2 linked regions of the Homo sapiens genome follow. The protein of the gene in region 2 interacts with the protein of the main gene of each other region in a pairwise test. Each region holds a gene or a part of one and is shown on either strand. Other genes may lie near its edges.

Region 1 (6,923 bases), on a different chromosome or scaffold from region 2:
GTGCACTTCCTTGTAAAATCCAGTATTAGCAAAGAACCCTGCTAAGTCTGTTTAGCATAACATCCTGGATATCTAATCATCCTAAATATCTGATCAGGTTCCTCATCCTCCACCATTCCCCAGGTAATGTCTGATCGCCCTGGCCTGTCTTCAGCAAGAATCCCGTTAGGTCGGCTTAGCCAGAATCCCCCTTATCCCTGATGTTTCCTTTTAGCAATTTTCCATCCACGATCCCCACACTGCTGCTTGGCTATAAATTCCCATTTTCTCATGCTGTATTCGGAGTTGAGCCCAGTCTCCCTCCCCTACTGCAGGGCCCCACTGCAGAGGTCTCTATACCTATTGAGATGGTTCTGAATAAAGCCTTACTTACCATTCTTAAACAAGTATCATTGAATATTTTTTTCTTTAAAAACGTGAATGTCTAATTTTATTGTCTTCTAACCAACTCCCACCCTTCTCCCCACCAAACCTACTCCTCTCGTAAACCTAATCTCAGTAAACAAGTACCCCATCTTTCTACTTGTTCGGAACTAAATTTTGGTGTCTTTTACATCTCTACCCTCAATTTATCCTGAAATCAATGACCTCTCACCACCTCCACCAATTCCACTCTGGTCCAAGCTACATTATCTCTGGCCTGGATTAGGGCAACAGTTCCGGATTGGTATCCCAGCTTCTGCTCCTGCTCAACCCTTCCCCTACAACAAAGTCTATTCTCCATCCAGCGCCCAGAATGATCATTTTTAAAAGGCAAGCCTGGGGCCGAGCGCAGTGGCTCACGCCTACAATCGCAGAATGTTGACACGCCAAGGTGGATGGATCGCTTGAGCCCAGGAGTTTGAGACCAGCCTGGGCAACAATGGCGAAACCCCATCTTTACAAAAAATTAGCCAAGCATGGTGGGTGATGTGTGCCTGAAGTCCCAATTACTTCAGAGGCTGAGGTGAGAGGATCACCTGAGCCTGGGAAGTCGAGGCTGCAGTAGGTTGTGATCATGCCACTGCACTCCAGCCTGGGAGACAAAGTGAGATCCTGACTCAAAACTAAAAATAAAAGGTAAGGTTCTTTACTCAAAGAGTGGACTCCCCTTTCCACTGAGAGTAGAAACTCAAGTCCTTAAAAGGGCCTACAAGGCCTTATACAGTCTAATCTCCCACCACACTCACCTCTTTGACTTTATTTCTACTCCTCTTTGCTTTTTCCACCACAGCCAAATCAGCCTCTCTGCTGTCCTCAAACAAGCCCAGCACACAGGGCTTCTGCAAGCCCTTCTGCCTTCCTCTCTGCTAGCACATCCTTCCCTCAGAGAGGTACATGGATTACCCCTCACTTACTTCTGGTCTTGGCTCAAATGATATCTTTTCTAGGAAGCTTTCCCTGGCTGCCTCTAGTTAAAATTGCAAACCTCTCCCGGTTCCCTGCCCTCCCTCTTCCCTGCCCTCCCTCTTCCGTGCTTTTTCTCTGTAGTACTTAACACCATCTGACACAGCACATATTTTATTTGTTTATTATCTGAGGTCCCCACTAGAATATAAGCTCCATGAAGGAGCAGATATTTATGTTTTCTTAGAAAAGTATCTGACACGCAGTAGGTGCTCAATAAATATTTACTAAATACATATATATAATTATATAGTTTGTGAAGTATTTTTATGCAAATTACAGCAATTCATTTTTCCTTATGCCCTCTCTTCTTCAAATTCTCCAATCTTTGTAGTAACAATATGGATGACAGCAAAGAGCTATCAGAAAAAGAGTTGTTGGCCACTTAACAAAGCTCTTTAAAACAGATACCCCATATTAATCAACTACATCTATAAATTGAAAGCTTAAAGTCAACATCTTTATTAGCATAGATGAATCTAGGCGTGGAATTTTAAAATAATAGCGCAGAAGAGCCAAGAATCATCAGGAAGAAAAGTCTAATTCAGTTTGTCCTATCAATCTGTTAAACAAACAATAGGAAAATGCAACCTGCATTTGATCTTCAAGGAAACACTGGCCCAAATTCAACACGAACGCATTCAACACAAGATTCGACTCCCTTAAAATTTTCTATCTGCTTAAAACAAACCCCATTAACTATCAAGTGCCGTCGCTGGGTGTGTATGGTCTGCCGAGCGGATCGGGGATGTTTTGCTATGTTTTGTTTAACCAGATAAGAATTAGCGTTAAGGAAACGTTTCTTAAAGCCTCTGTATCCCCTGGACCATTAAACAACCCCTTCGTTGGGCTTTACACTGTGGTACCGGGGTCTTCTCGGGTAATTTCCCAGCTTATTTAACTCATCAGAAGCGAAGGGGCATCTCAGTCAGGCTCCAGTGATACCGGAGACAGACGGCAGATGTCTCAGGGGATCCCCTGGAAAGAGAGGCTCTCGCCCAGTCAAAGGGTGTCACGGACAGGAGGAAAGAGCGGACCGAGGCGCACGGTGTAGGTGACAGGTGGGCGAGCGCCGCAGGGCAACAGCGCGGGGAGTGACCGGCTGGGTGGTGGCGCGGAAACCGTCAACTCCCATCGTCAACCTGACAGCTTGGGCCCAGCTGGGCTGAGTAGTGCAGCGGCACAGGATCAAAAAATAAAATAAAGGTAGCAACACACCGCCGTCAGCCTGCTCGACCTCGCCCCCCGCGCGCTGCGAAATAAAGTTAGTGCCCAGTGGCCGCTGCAATGGCCCAGAGGGGCCCAGCCGAGCTCCCGCCCGCGGCCCGGCGGCTGTCAAAGGCGGCCCGGCGCCGCGAGAAGTCCCAGAGCCCAGAAGCCAGAGAGGACGCCCCGAGCTGGCGCGTCAGGCCGAGTGCCCTCGCGCCCTCGCGCCCTCAGCCCGGCGGTCCCGGCCCTCAACCCAGGCTGACAGCCACCAGCCCCAAACCGCCTCCCCTCCAGGCCACGCAGAGGGGCCGGGACCCGGAACCTTCTGCCGGCAGCGTCGGCGCCCGGCGGCCGCCTTTACCTGGTTTGTGGCAGCTGCGGCCGCCGCGCACTCCCCCTCTCCCGGAGAACCCCGAGCCGACGCCGCTGCCGCCGCCGCCGCGCACTCCCCACCCCCGCCCGCCCAGGTAACCCAGGAAACCGAGAACACCACCCCCTCCCTCCCCTCGTCCGGACCCAGACCCGCTCGTCTGCGCGTGCGCCCTTGGCTCCGCCTCGCGCGTGTAAGCCCCGCCTCCTCTGGGAGGGCAGCGCCGGCGTCGCAGGCGTGACGCGTGGAACTGCCGAGCCAATAGGGAAGGCAGGGGGGCGGGCCGACCCGCGGGGCTGCAGCCGGGGCCCGGTCTGGGTTTCTCAGCGGTCGGGGGTCGTACCCTGGGTCCGCACCTCCTCCCAGGGCTCTGCGTAGTGGGCTGCGTCAGACCCTGGGGAGTGCGAGCACCGTTTGAGAAGCACCAAACACAAGCGCATCGTCCGCCTCTTCCATTCAACACAGACTGTCAACCTGTCCCATTGTGTAGGTCTAGAGGATGAAGATAGAAGAAATAACGGGAAGGAGTCAGGAGAGGGAGAAAGGGTTACCCACAAGGCACCCCTAGCCTTCCTCTGGGACCTGGAAAAAGCCATATTGTAATGGTTACCGTCGGCTTCTTTCAAGAAACAAAAAGAGCTTTGCAAAGCCACTGCAGAAGTAATTCAGTGCAGTGGTGTATTTTCCAACCGACTCCTGTTCAAACACGGTTTGTATACAGTGCGCACTGTCAGTGTCATATGCCCTAATAGACCAGTCCCTCCAGAGGGTGGGAGCTGTAGGTAAAATCCAGGATGTTTTGGCTGCATCCCCGGCTCTGGGCCCAGCACGCTGCTGGCAGACTGCTGCGGTAGGCAGTTTGGCATTTCAAGGGCCACCCTCCTCACCTCCTAGTCACTGAGACAGCAACGCCAGAGGTACTGGGAAAAAGCCTGAACTGTAATCGTTCGGTAGTTTTCAAGTTCTGCCAAACAATACAAACTATTAATAAGCAGATAATCTACAAATTGACAGGAATTGCTGTAGAATCAACAACTCCCATAATTTTTTGCACAGGAATTATGAAATAGAAATAATTCAGGATATTATGTCCCAAGCCTATATACCAAATGTTACTCCCAATTCCTCAAACTCCCATCTAACCCAATGACAAGCAAAGTGCGTTAAGTTGCCCACTGATGTGGTTTAGAGGGTGCTCTTGGGGAAAATTCCCCACTTTAAAATATGTCTTCTCTGACGTCTGATGTTTAACCATTAGCAGTTCATATCTTTAGGCGAAGATTGCCCACTTCCTCTGGCAGGTAGTCTTTTATTTTTATTTTTTATCTTTTTTTTTTTGAGACAGATTCTCGCTCTGTCGCCCAGGCTGGAGGGCAGTGGCCGGATATCGGCTCACTGAACCCTAACAAGTGCAGGAAATAAATGTCTCAGGGAACTTATCACTCATTTAAGCAGTATATAATGAGCACCTACAATGCGCTAAGTATTGTGCTAGGTGCATGGGCCTGAACTGAAACAAAAAGAGGAAGCCAAACTTAACCTGTTTCGTCATTTTACCTAAAGCTGTGTCTACTCTTATTTATACATCAACTTTCACCCACTAATCTTAAAAACACCCCCCTTTTTTAATGGACAAAAGAAGTCAAAGAAATATTAAGTAACAAGCCAGTTTCTGTTAACCTTGAGTAGAAAATAATAGATTATCATGATTTCATTAAAGCAAAGAAAATGAGACAGACTTTAGATGATAATGGTATACAATTGGCCCTCAAAGTATTATTTGTTTGTAAAAGGCACAAAGTAATGCCATTTGTGACTATTATTTTTTTCGGTACCAGTGTTTTTTATTTTATTTTATTTTCAAGATGCAGCTTCACTCTTTTTCCCTGACTGGAGTGCAGTGGCACAGTCTCGGCTCACTGCAACCTCCGCCTCCCGGGTTCAAGTGATTCTCCTGCCTCAGCCTCCCAAGTAGCTGGGATTACAGGAATGTGCTACCATGCCCGGCTAATTTTGTATTTTTAGTAGAGACAGAGTTTCATCATGTTGGTCAGGCTGGTCTCGAACTCCTGACCTCAGGTGATCCACCCACCTCTACCTCCCAAAGTGCTGGGATTACAGGCATGAGACACCGCTCCTGGCCTCGGTTCCAGTATTTTAACTAAGCTACTGCAGTATGTATTTTATTCAATAGTATCTTAGAACATCGATACTAAATATACATATCAAATAAAACTTAGTTTAAAAGATTTCCTAGGAACACACACAAAATGTGTAGTGAAGAACATGAAAAAGAAGAAAAAAGTAAAGTAATAGGTATATAGAAGAAAGCTCTACTTGGCCGGGCGCAGTGGCTCACGCCTGTAATCCCAGCACTTTGGGAGGCCGAGGCGGGCAGATCACGAGGTCAGGAGATGGAGACCATCCTGGCTAACACGGTGAAACCCCGTCTCTACTAAAAATACAAAAAATTAGCCGGGCGCGGTGGCGGACGCCTGTAGTCTCAGCTAATCGAGAGGCTGAGGCAGGAGAATAGCGTGAACCCGGGAGGCGGAGCTTGCAGTGAGCTGAGATAGCGCCACTACAGTCTGGCCCGGGTGAAAGAGCGAGACTCCGTCTCAAAAAAAAAAATAATAATTAAAAAAGCTCTACTTACGCATGTATCACATGCTGGAAAACTTTTTAAGCAGGAAAGTCTTCAGCTAATTTGACTCCAGAATTATAATCTTCAATGAGATTGTAACATCCCAGCTTAAAACAACACAGTCAACGTAAATGTGCATAATTTCACATTTAATTATTCTCCAAAACACCTTTAAAAATTATTTGTGACTAAATGGATATATAAATCAAATCATGTCACATCTCTGCTCAAAAATCTGCATTGGCTCTCCGCTTCTCTCAGATAAAAGCCAAAGTCCTTACAATTGGCCTACAGAGCTCTAACACCATCTGGCTCCTCAAAACTTCGTCTCTTTCTACTCTCCCATCACTACCTACATACCTGCTTCTTTACTGTTTACCAAACATGCCAGATACAGTCCTGCTTTAAGGGCTTTGCACTGACTGGCCGGCCCCTCTGCTTGAAATTTGTTTTCTCCACATGGCTGCAGTTGTTAACTCCTTTATCTCCTCCACGTCTTTGCTCAAATTTCACCTCTCAATGAGGTCTACCCTTAATACTGCCCTTAAACTAGGCAAGAGGGGCCTCTGCCCTGGACCCCACACATGAATGGACCTCATCTCACAAATGTTCCCTAAAACAATAGTATTAAAAAACATGTATGTTCTCTGTCCCTTCTTGGGGGGTGTGGGGAGGTGGGTGGCATTGGTGAGAGTTGACACAGTTGTTAAATCAAGTTTAGCCTAAAGCTGCCTCCTTGCATATTTTAAGTTCAGCCTAAAGGTTTTTCTGTACATCATGAGCTATAACAAATGAAGGTGTAAACAGGCCATAGCCCACACCTGTGTCAATCCCTGAGTTTTGGCCAATCAAATGTAGCCAACTGTTTGAACTGTGTTCTAATAAAGCAAACGCTGAGCTGCAACCAACCCAGTTGTTTCTGTACCTCACTTCCATTTTCTGTATGTCACTTTCCTTTTGCTGTCCATAAATCTCCCACCGTGTGGCTGCGCGGGAGTCTCTGAGCCTACCTTGGCTCAGAAGGCTGCCTGATTCACGAATTGTTTTGTGCTCAATTAAACTTTAAATTTAATTTGGCTGAAGTGTTTCTTTTATCACAGTGTAACCTGTAACTCTAAACATCATCTCTTTCATAGCACCCATCAGCTTCTAACATACTACATAATTTGTCTATTTCTTATGTTTATTTTCATTGTCACCCCTGTTTAGACTATGGGCTCCACAAGGGCCACAATCTTTGTTCTATTTCTGATGTATCCCAAGGACCAGAACAGTGCCTGGCACTTAGTAGGCACTCAGTAAATATTTGGATAA
Region 2 (7,817 bases):
TTTTAAGTGAGAGAAACATAATTTGCCTTTTTAGGAAATATAACTATTTCCTCTTTATTTCATTATTTATAAATTTTGTATTTCTGATGACAGTAATTATTTTTAGCATATGCCAGTTAAGTTCTACAAATATATACTATTAGCAATACTTAAAAAGGTAGATTCAATTTCTATCAACTGTTTTATTCCTTTATTGTCTCTTTTAAGGGTACATGTTCATTTTTTTTGTTAGTAGATCACTTATCTATATCCTTAATTCTTTAGAATTCACAAATCAGTACTATCTGGTTTTTCTAATATGCTACAATCTCTTTTCTTAAGATGATGCCTCACCTTTCAGTTACCTTTAAAAGTAGCTTGCAAATATTATTCTACTGAAAGATCCCTCTTTTCTTTTCGCAATTTCTGTGTGAAGAAAGGATATTTTCTCTCTTTTATTGTTTTAGTGGCTCAATAAGGACCTTTGCAGTGGTTATGAAAGCCTCAGTAAGAAAAGATGACAATGTGAAACCTCTAGTTTTAAACGTTTCTATACATGTTGAAATTAAATCTTTAAATTTCAATGAATTCGTGTATTATAAAATAAATGAATAATGTATAGTGTGCATTTAAAAAACTTTACCTTTTTGGATATAGTCCACCACCAAGTAGAAAAGTCCTCAACGCATCTGTATCAGAATTTTTTTTAAAGGGGTTTAATGACTCAGATTTTATGAAAGAAAAGAAGTCAAGTAAATAAGACTAAAAAAAGATTGAAAATAGAATTTGTTATTCATAATGACAAAATACATTTGCCATATTTATATATTTAATGTGGATTTTTCCATGTGACGTTCTTAAATGCTTTTGCATTCAAACATTGCTACCCATTTCATAGATTAAGAGGTAGAGTGTGGTTATGAGTATGCAGGATGGATATTAAGTAACTTACTGAGAATTAGATGGTGGACAATTAAAGGAACTGGGAACTGAGTATAGTTTTTGTGGACTAAAAATATTGCCTTTCCAAATGCATCACTAATACTTTGCACAAATGTTAATTTAAAAGTCCCTTATATGTTGTTCTAACAATAATGTGTTAATATGTATATACGTGGATGTATATACATATATAACACACACATATATTTTATATTTTAAACACACAGACACAGACACACACATTAGATTCAGATGGACTTTGATTAAACTGCCCTTTCATAGGACTTTTAATTTAACTCTTGTTAAAAATGCTCCTCCTTTAAAAGAAAGCTTCTGTGGAGTAATATGACTGATACAGTCATATTACTCAGGCAGGTAATACACTAGATTTGAACTAACTTTCAATATTAAAAAAAATCCGAAATCGGTCTTGAAAATCTTAAAATATTACATGAAATTGTTGTACAGATAAGTAGACATGTGCTAAGGATATTTATATAAAATTATGAGCAGAGTATTCTCTTTGTAATTGGTTTAGATGCCAGATTGCAACTTTGACACTATTACTTATAACTTATCAAAGACAATTTATGCTTTGCAACTGACATTTTAAAATTGGAGATTTACTTGAACTGGTACCTAATGTGTTTTCTGTAATTAATTCCTTTGAGGTCAAGTTTCATGGACACAGGTTTCCTTTAACATTAATCCCTCCTTTAGCAATATCTTTATTGTTGGAATTAACAGTTGAAAAAACGTTAATCTTTTTTTCAAGTAAGAGTCTCAGTTCCAGATATTGTTTGTTTCACCAATGCAAGACATTCTGAAAAGTGCAAAATATCTTAAAAGTAGGTGCTGTGGAGTCAATGCATGAAAAGAGCCAGAAGTTAAATCAATCATATGTTAATACGAAATGGAAAGTTTAATTATGTAGCTACTTAAGTTCTTAATAGAACTCGGTAATGAAGGGTCTGTCTCATTTTAAACTTTATACTACTATTCAGGTTATTTGTAAATAATACCTAAAATTTATAAGCTTTATATGTTTTTGCTGGTTATTCAGGAGATGTTAAATAGGTTATTTGGAGGACAGCACAATTTGTTGGATGATGATGTTCAAAAAACTGTTGAATGAAAATGAATGACGTTCTCATTGTAGCTGGTTTCCAGTTTTAAGAATGAGAATAATACATTTAAAAGTTGGGGGATAAATAACTGAATATATAGTAGTTTACTATTCCCAAAATGAATTTTGTTAAGCATGAAAAAATGTTTATCAGTTAGGCATGTTTACCTTTCTGCAGTGGCTAATTATGCTTTTTCGCATCGTCCAAAGAAAGACAAATCTTAGTTTTCCTTCTTTAGCATCTGTGTAGCCTCTATCAGGTGAATTGGACAGTTTACATTTTTGGTGTCTGTTTATATACGAAGCATGGAAAGTAATTGCGAGGCTACTCAGCAGTGTTTAATGAAATCCAAGTGCTCACCAATTCCACATAATTGATTAATTCACATGGAATACGGTGGTAAGGGATGCTGAAATCAGTGGGAGTTTTGCCTACCAGATCTGTCCCTCCAAAAGGTAGAATGGGTGATGTTTTATCTTGGACTTCAAGACCCCTTAATGAGACCTAAGAAAATATTTGTCTTGTCTTTAGTAAAATTCCTTGCACATGGTTCTTTATGCATTATTACCCCATCATCAACAACAGCATCCAAATATTCACAAAGTTGCTGCATTCTGCTCAGAGATGATGGCTTTGGCTTCATGGGTGGATGTTGGGGTTTATGTTTAGAAACATAATCAATGATCTTCCCCCCCTTGGTAACTTGGGGGGAGGAAATTAAAGTATTTAAAGATACGTTTCAAAAGCATTTTACCTATCTGTATAGGTCAATATTTGACAGATTTAGGTTAAAATAGTTTTTATGTTTGTCTTTTGGGTGGTTGGTGCTTTAACCTCCCTTAAAATGCTATGCAGTACTATCCCAAACTGAAATATCAGGCTCTTGAGCCAGATCTAAATCTCTGAGCTAAGGGTTTTATTTATCTCTTAATAGAGGAAGGCAACAGAAATACTAACATTGGGAAATGAAAGAACAATTTTAGAGTAAAGCAAAGTAGACTACTTTGAGAAAGAAACAAAAAAAATCAACCCATATAGAAAACTTTAACAAATTAGGGTACGCGTTAGTATTACGTTAGCAATTTTTCACTTTCCAATAAAACCAGGATTAGATGCCATCAATATTTTAGATAATATCACACATAACTTGGGACCACACATACATGGCACCATAGTATTCTGCACACATATGGCTACCACACGAAAGGAAAGTCTTGTAAAAACTTGGTGTTTACACATTTTTCCCTTTCTGAATGATTTCTGTGAAAATGAATGTATAAGGTTATGTATAAAATCTAGAATCCTTAATGTACCAACACAGATTCTGCAACAAAAGTTGCTTTATTTCACAGTCATGCAAAGTTAAATTTGACTACAACTATGATTTCACTTTAGGAATTACTGCAGATGGATTGAAAACTCATTTAATTATAATGAAGATATTGAAAAAAAACATACTGTATTTGCAGCTATCCACATGAGGGTCCAGGCAGTTTACAGGTTAGACTGGAAAAAATACAACTTCCTTAAAGCTTTGATGTCTTTGCATGGTGGCTTAATAGATAGCTGTACCTTAATTTTACAGAACGGAGAATTTTTAAAATCTGATTAAGAACAATAGTATTTGTACAAAATTCTGCCTGTTTTGTGTAATTAACCGTATTCTGAATCTCTTAATTTCCACCAAGACTTGTGAATCTAAGCTCTACTTGGTAGCCCTCTCAGGCATTTATAACTTGACAAGCGTGTCCAATCAATAAATAGCAACAACAATAATAATACTAAAACATCCTTTCCCTTAAGATAAGGTAAAAGAAGGAAACAGGTGATGGTTTCTTGTTTTGCGATGGGAGCAGGTGAAAAGTTAGAAAACAAAACTGCGAAAAGAAACAAAAATTCCCACCGACCTGCAGACATTTCAATTTATTTTAGAAACTATTTTCTTGTACACATATTCTTAAGTGCATATTTCCTTACCTCTTGCTTAAAGAAAAAATCAACAGAAAGCTTTATTTTCTGGACAAAGATCTATGTCAATTTGAGAATGTTAAAAAAGTGAACTCAAAGCTGTCTCTTTTGAATCACATTATGACATTCGTCAGCATCAATGACTTTCTCTAAACGAGAAAATAAAAAAAAAGTCCAAATAACTTGCCTTTATAAAGATTCCAAGTAAGAGAGACTTGGCAGGTCTGCGGTTGCCATAAAAAAGATTTCCCGAGTCCGGGCAACAACAGCAGACACACTTTTTTAAAGTCCGACAATGCAAAAGCCAAGCAATGAATTTCCCCCCTCCTTTCTTTTTCTTTTTCTTTTTCTTTTTTTTTTTTTTTTTTTTTGCCCCCTCAAGAACAAATTGTTGCCTCCTTTTACATCCATCCTACCAGAAGGGGGACCTTTCCACTTTCAGATGCTCCTCTGCTTTAATTTCTGAAGAGGAAAAAAAGCGAGCAGAAGAGCCCCGAGATCCGCCGTGGAGCTCTAATAACGCAGCTGCGGCGGCGGCGACGGCGGCGGCGCGGGGTGTGCGAGCGGCCGGGCGGGCGGCGCGAGGGGCGGCGGCGCAGGAGCGGGCGGGGCGCGCGGCGCGTGGGAGGCGGCGGCGGCGGCGGCGGCGGCGGGCGGGGCTCGGGGCGCTCGGCCGCCGCCTGGCTCCGGATCCGCGCGCCGCGGCCGGCGCCTCCAGTCCGGGTCTTGGCGGGCCCCCTCCTCCCTCCCGCTCCCCGCGCTCTCGCCTTTTAATCATGCCCCTCTGTCTGTGTGTGAGTGCAGGCAGGCTGACAATGATTTCCTCAGTGATTACGTACAGAGCGAGTCCCTGCGGGTTAGGGGCCCCCTCTGGAGCCATCCTGATGGCTTTGGGGGCCTTGCTTCCATTTTCCATTATTATGTGGACTACCGGAGCGACAGCGCAGTCCAAGACCTTGCAGGTTTGTGATGAGGAGGGAGCACACAGCACACTCCTTCTCCTCCTCCTGCTCCCGGCTCTCCTCCTCCTCCTCCTCCTGCTCTCGCCGCCGCTGCCGCCGCCGCTGCCGCCGCTGCTGCCGCCGCCGCTGCCGAGGCAGCCGTAGACTTTAGAGCCCCGGTCCAGCGCCAGCCGCCGGCGCCGCGCCCCCGCCCAGAGAGGGGCGCCCCGAGCCCGGGCCCCGCACACCCCCTGCACACAAGCAGCCCCGCACACCACCTGGGGGCCGTCGGCTCGGGTGCTTTGGCTTTTTCTTTTTGAAAGAAATTACTTTAGTGTGGGTTAAGAAAAAAAGGGTGGGGGGAAGGGAGAAAAAAAGTATTTTTTTCCCTTTGCTTATTTTCGTGGCCCGTTCGCATCTGCCTCGGATGGTGGGAGATTTTTCTTTCCAAGACCTTTTCATCGCCTTGCAGGGTCGATTTCCCCCCCTCGTCCCCCCAACTACAAAAGAGCACGACTCGCTTTGTAAACAAATCAGTGTTATTTGTTTTTTTCCGGTGGGGGGGGGGGCGGATTTGTTGAAAAGGAAAAGCGGTAAAGAAAAAAAAAATCACCCAGACGCTTTTCTTTTTATTAGTTTTTTTCTATTCGCATGAACTATGTGAATTTTGATTGAGGTGGAAATAGTAACGGATTTTCTCTTTTTAGTGTAGCTGACGGCTCTTCAAACATTGTCTTTGGGGTTTTTTTTTTAGCTTTTTTTCCCTCCTTTCCTTTTTTCTTTTTCCTTTTTTTTTTTTTTTCTTGGAGATTGGGGGTGGGGGTCGAAGGCTGGGAAAGTTTGGTGCAGCAGCCGCCGCCGCCGCCGCCGCCGTCGTGCAGAGCGCGGAGCTCGGGCAGCCGCGAGCCCCGCGCGCGAGCGCGAGCCGGAGCCGGAGCGAGGAGCGGAGCGCGGAGCGAGGGCGCGAGGGAGGCCGAGCGGAGGGCGCGAGGCGCCGCGGCCCGAGGGGCGCGCGGCCACGAGGAAGTATAGTTTCTTTCAGGGCTGAATTGAAACAACTTCAGCTGTTTGCTTTTAGGATGTCTCGCCGCAAGCAAGCGAAACCGAGATCCCTCAAAGGTAAGGAGGAACCCCCTGCTCCCCGCTTTCCCCCATCCGCGAGTGTCACTGTGGGTAGCGGAGCGAGGGCTGCGTGGCTGCGAGGCGTGTGCGCGCGTGAGTGTGAGTGTGAGTGCGGGGGCGCGCGCGCTCCCCTCCCCGCTGAGCCCCTAGGTGGAGTGAGGGTGAGGTGTCGGGGTGGGGGGAGACGAAGACGGGAGGAGGATCCCCGAATGGGGCGGCGGTAGAAAGTGGGCGAGAAAAGACAACAACAACCGAAAAAAAAAAAGAGAGAGAGAGAGAAAGAAACGAAATTATCCGGAGAGGGAGGAAAAAAAAATATCCCGTCTGAGATCTACATCTGGGCTGGAGGAAAAAGTTTCTGTTGTGTGTTTTCGCAAAGAATAAATATGCAAAACCGTGCGGTGCTTCTTTTTTCCTTTTCTTTGGAAGAAGAAAAAAGTCATCTCGGAGGTGGGGAGCAGCCCCCGCTCGTGACAAACGTGGCCCGGGGTCCCGGCCGCCGCCTCCCGCCCGCCCGCGTCCTGCTTGGGTCCTCTCCGCACGTCGCCGGAGTAAACAGACCCCGGCCGCCGGCCGCGGGCACCGGACCCCGGCTCGGGCCTCAGAGCACCCCTCTTGGCCATTCCCAGAAGTTGACCGCCCCTCGCCCCTACTTCTCCCCGCCGCCCCTGGAGTCCTTTGCGTTTCGCGGTGGGGTCCAGCTCTCCGTCGTCCCTGTTGGAGAGGGAAGTTGCGGGGCGTGCGTGCGGGATTTTGGGGGCGCACTAGCTGGCTGCGGCGGGGGCGGGGGTCCCTGAAGTTATCGATCTGATGGCTGTGTTGGAATGTGGCGAGGAGAGTCACGTGGCGGCCTCCTCCTCCTCCTCGGCCGCCTCCTCCACCTTCGCGAGCCTCCTTCCGAGGAAATCGGGGGCGGGCGGCCGAGGGGAGCCGCGAGGTCCGGCGCTCCGAGGCGGAGAGCGGGGAGGGCGGGCGGCGGAGCGCGAGGGCCGGAGGAGGGGCGCGCGGGCAGGACGGGGAACCGGGGCGAGGGCCAGGGGGCCAGCGCTGGAGGCGGCCGCGGCCCCCGCGACCCGGAGGCGGAGGACAAAGGGCGGCTGGTGCGCCCGCCCGGGCCCGCTGGGTCCCGCCGAGGTCCGCGCGGCCCGGCCCCGCCCTCTGGTCCCCGGCGGCGCAGCATCCTCTTCCTCCTGGCTGCCGGGCCGCGGCGCCCCGTGGCCCCGGTTCCCGCACCAGCTTCCCGACTCGCCGCCGGCCCGGGGAAAAGGGGTGGGCAGGGCCCGGCGCCCCACGCCTCCCGGCCCCCGGCCGCTGTGCATTTTTGAACTCGATGAACGGAGCCCTCACCGCACACACAAAGCCCTTTCTTTCTTCTCCTGGGAAGGGACGGGGTGGGGGAGGGCCTCGCAGATTGGAACGCTTGCTTTTTTCCTAAAGCGCAGAAGTTTTAGTTCGGGAACGAGGTGAATCATTGGCATGTGTCTCCACACAGTGTGTCTGGTGGTTTCCGTCACATGGGCCCCTCATTTTTCTGGGGGAAACCTAGACCCAGGGCCTGAAAGATCCAAGTGTCGACAGTGAAAAAAGAAACGCCACGGGCGTGCGCGGGTGTCAGGGTAACGGTGGACCAGGCTCGCGCCGGCGAGACTTGCCCGAGACCCCGGCTTTCTTGAAAGTAACGCTGAGCGAAGTACCAGGACAAACCTCTTCCTAGTCACTTGGAAAGAAGAACTTTCCG

Evidence for each region. The genes of interacting proteins can lie anywhere in the genome.
Region 1: the proteins of ZNF521 (region 2) and LYST interact in a two-hybrid assay, tested with the Homo sapiens proteins (one study listed by BioGRID).

The regions. Positions count from the first base shown.
Region 1 is NC_000001.11:235,863,887-235,870,809, forward strand, and holds the start of LYST (lysosomal-trafficking regulator), read right to left. Parts: upstream 3,021-6,923; 5' UTR 2,957-3,020; exon of another isoform or gene 1,170-2,956; intron 1-1,169. UniProt on the Homo sapiens protein: Adapter protein that regulates and/or fission of intracellular vesicles such as lysosomes. Might regulate trafficking of effectors involved in exocytosis.
Region 2 is NC_000018.10:25,349,166-25,356,982, reverse strand, and holds the start of ZNF521 (zinc finger protein 521), read left to right. Parts: upstream 1-4,816; 5' UTR 4,817-4,978; intron 4,979-6,035; 5' UTR 6,036-6,036; coding exon 6,037-6,076; intron 6,077-7,817. UniProt on the Homo sapiens protein: Transcription factor that can both act as an activator or a repressor depending on the context. Involved in BMP signaling and in the regulation of the immature compartment of the hematopoietic system.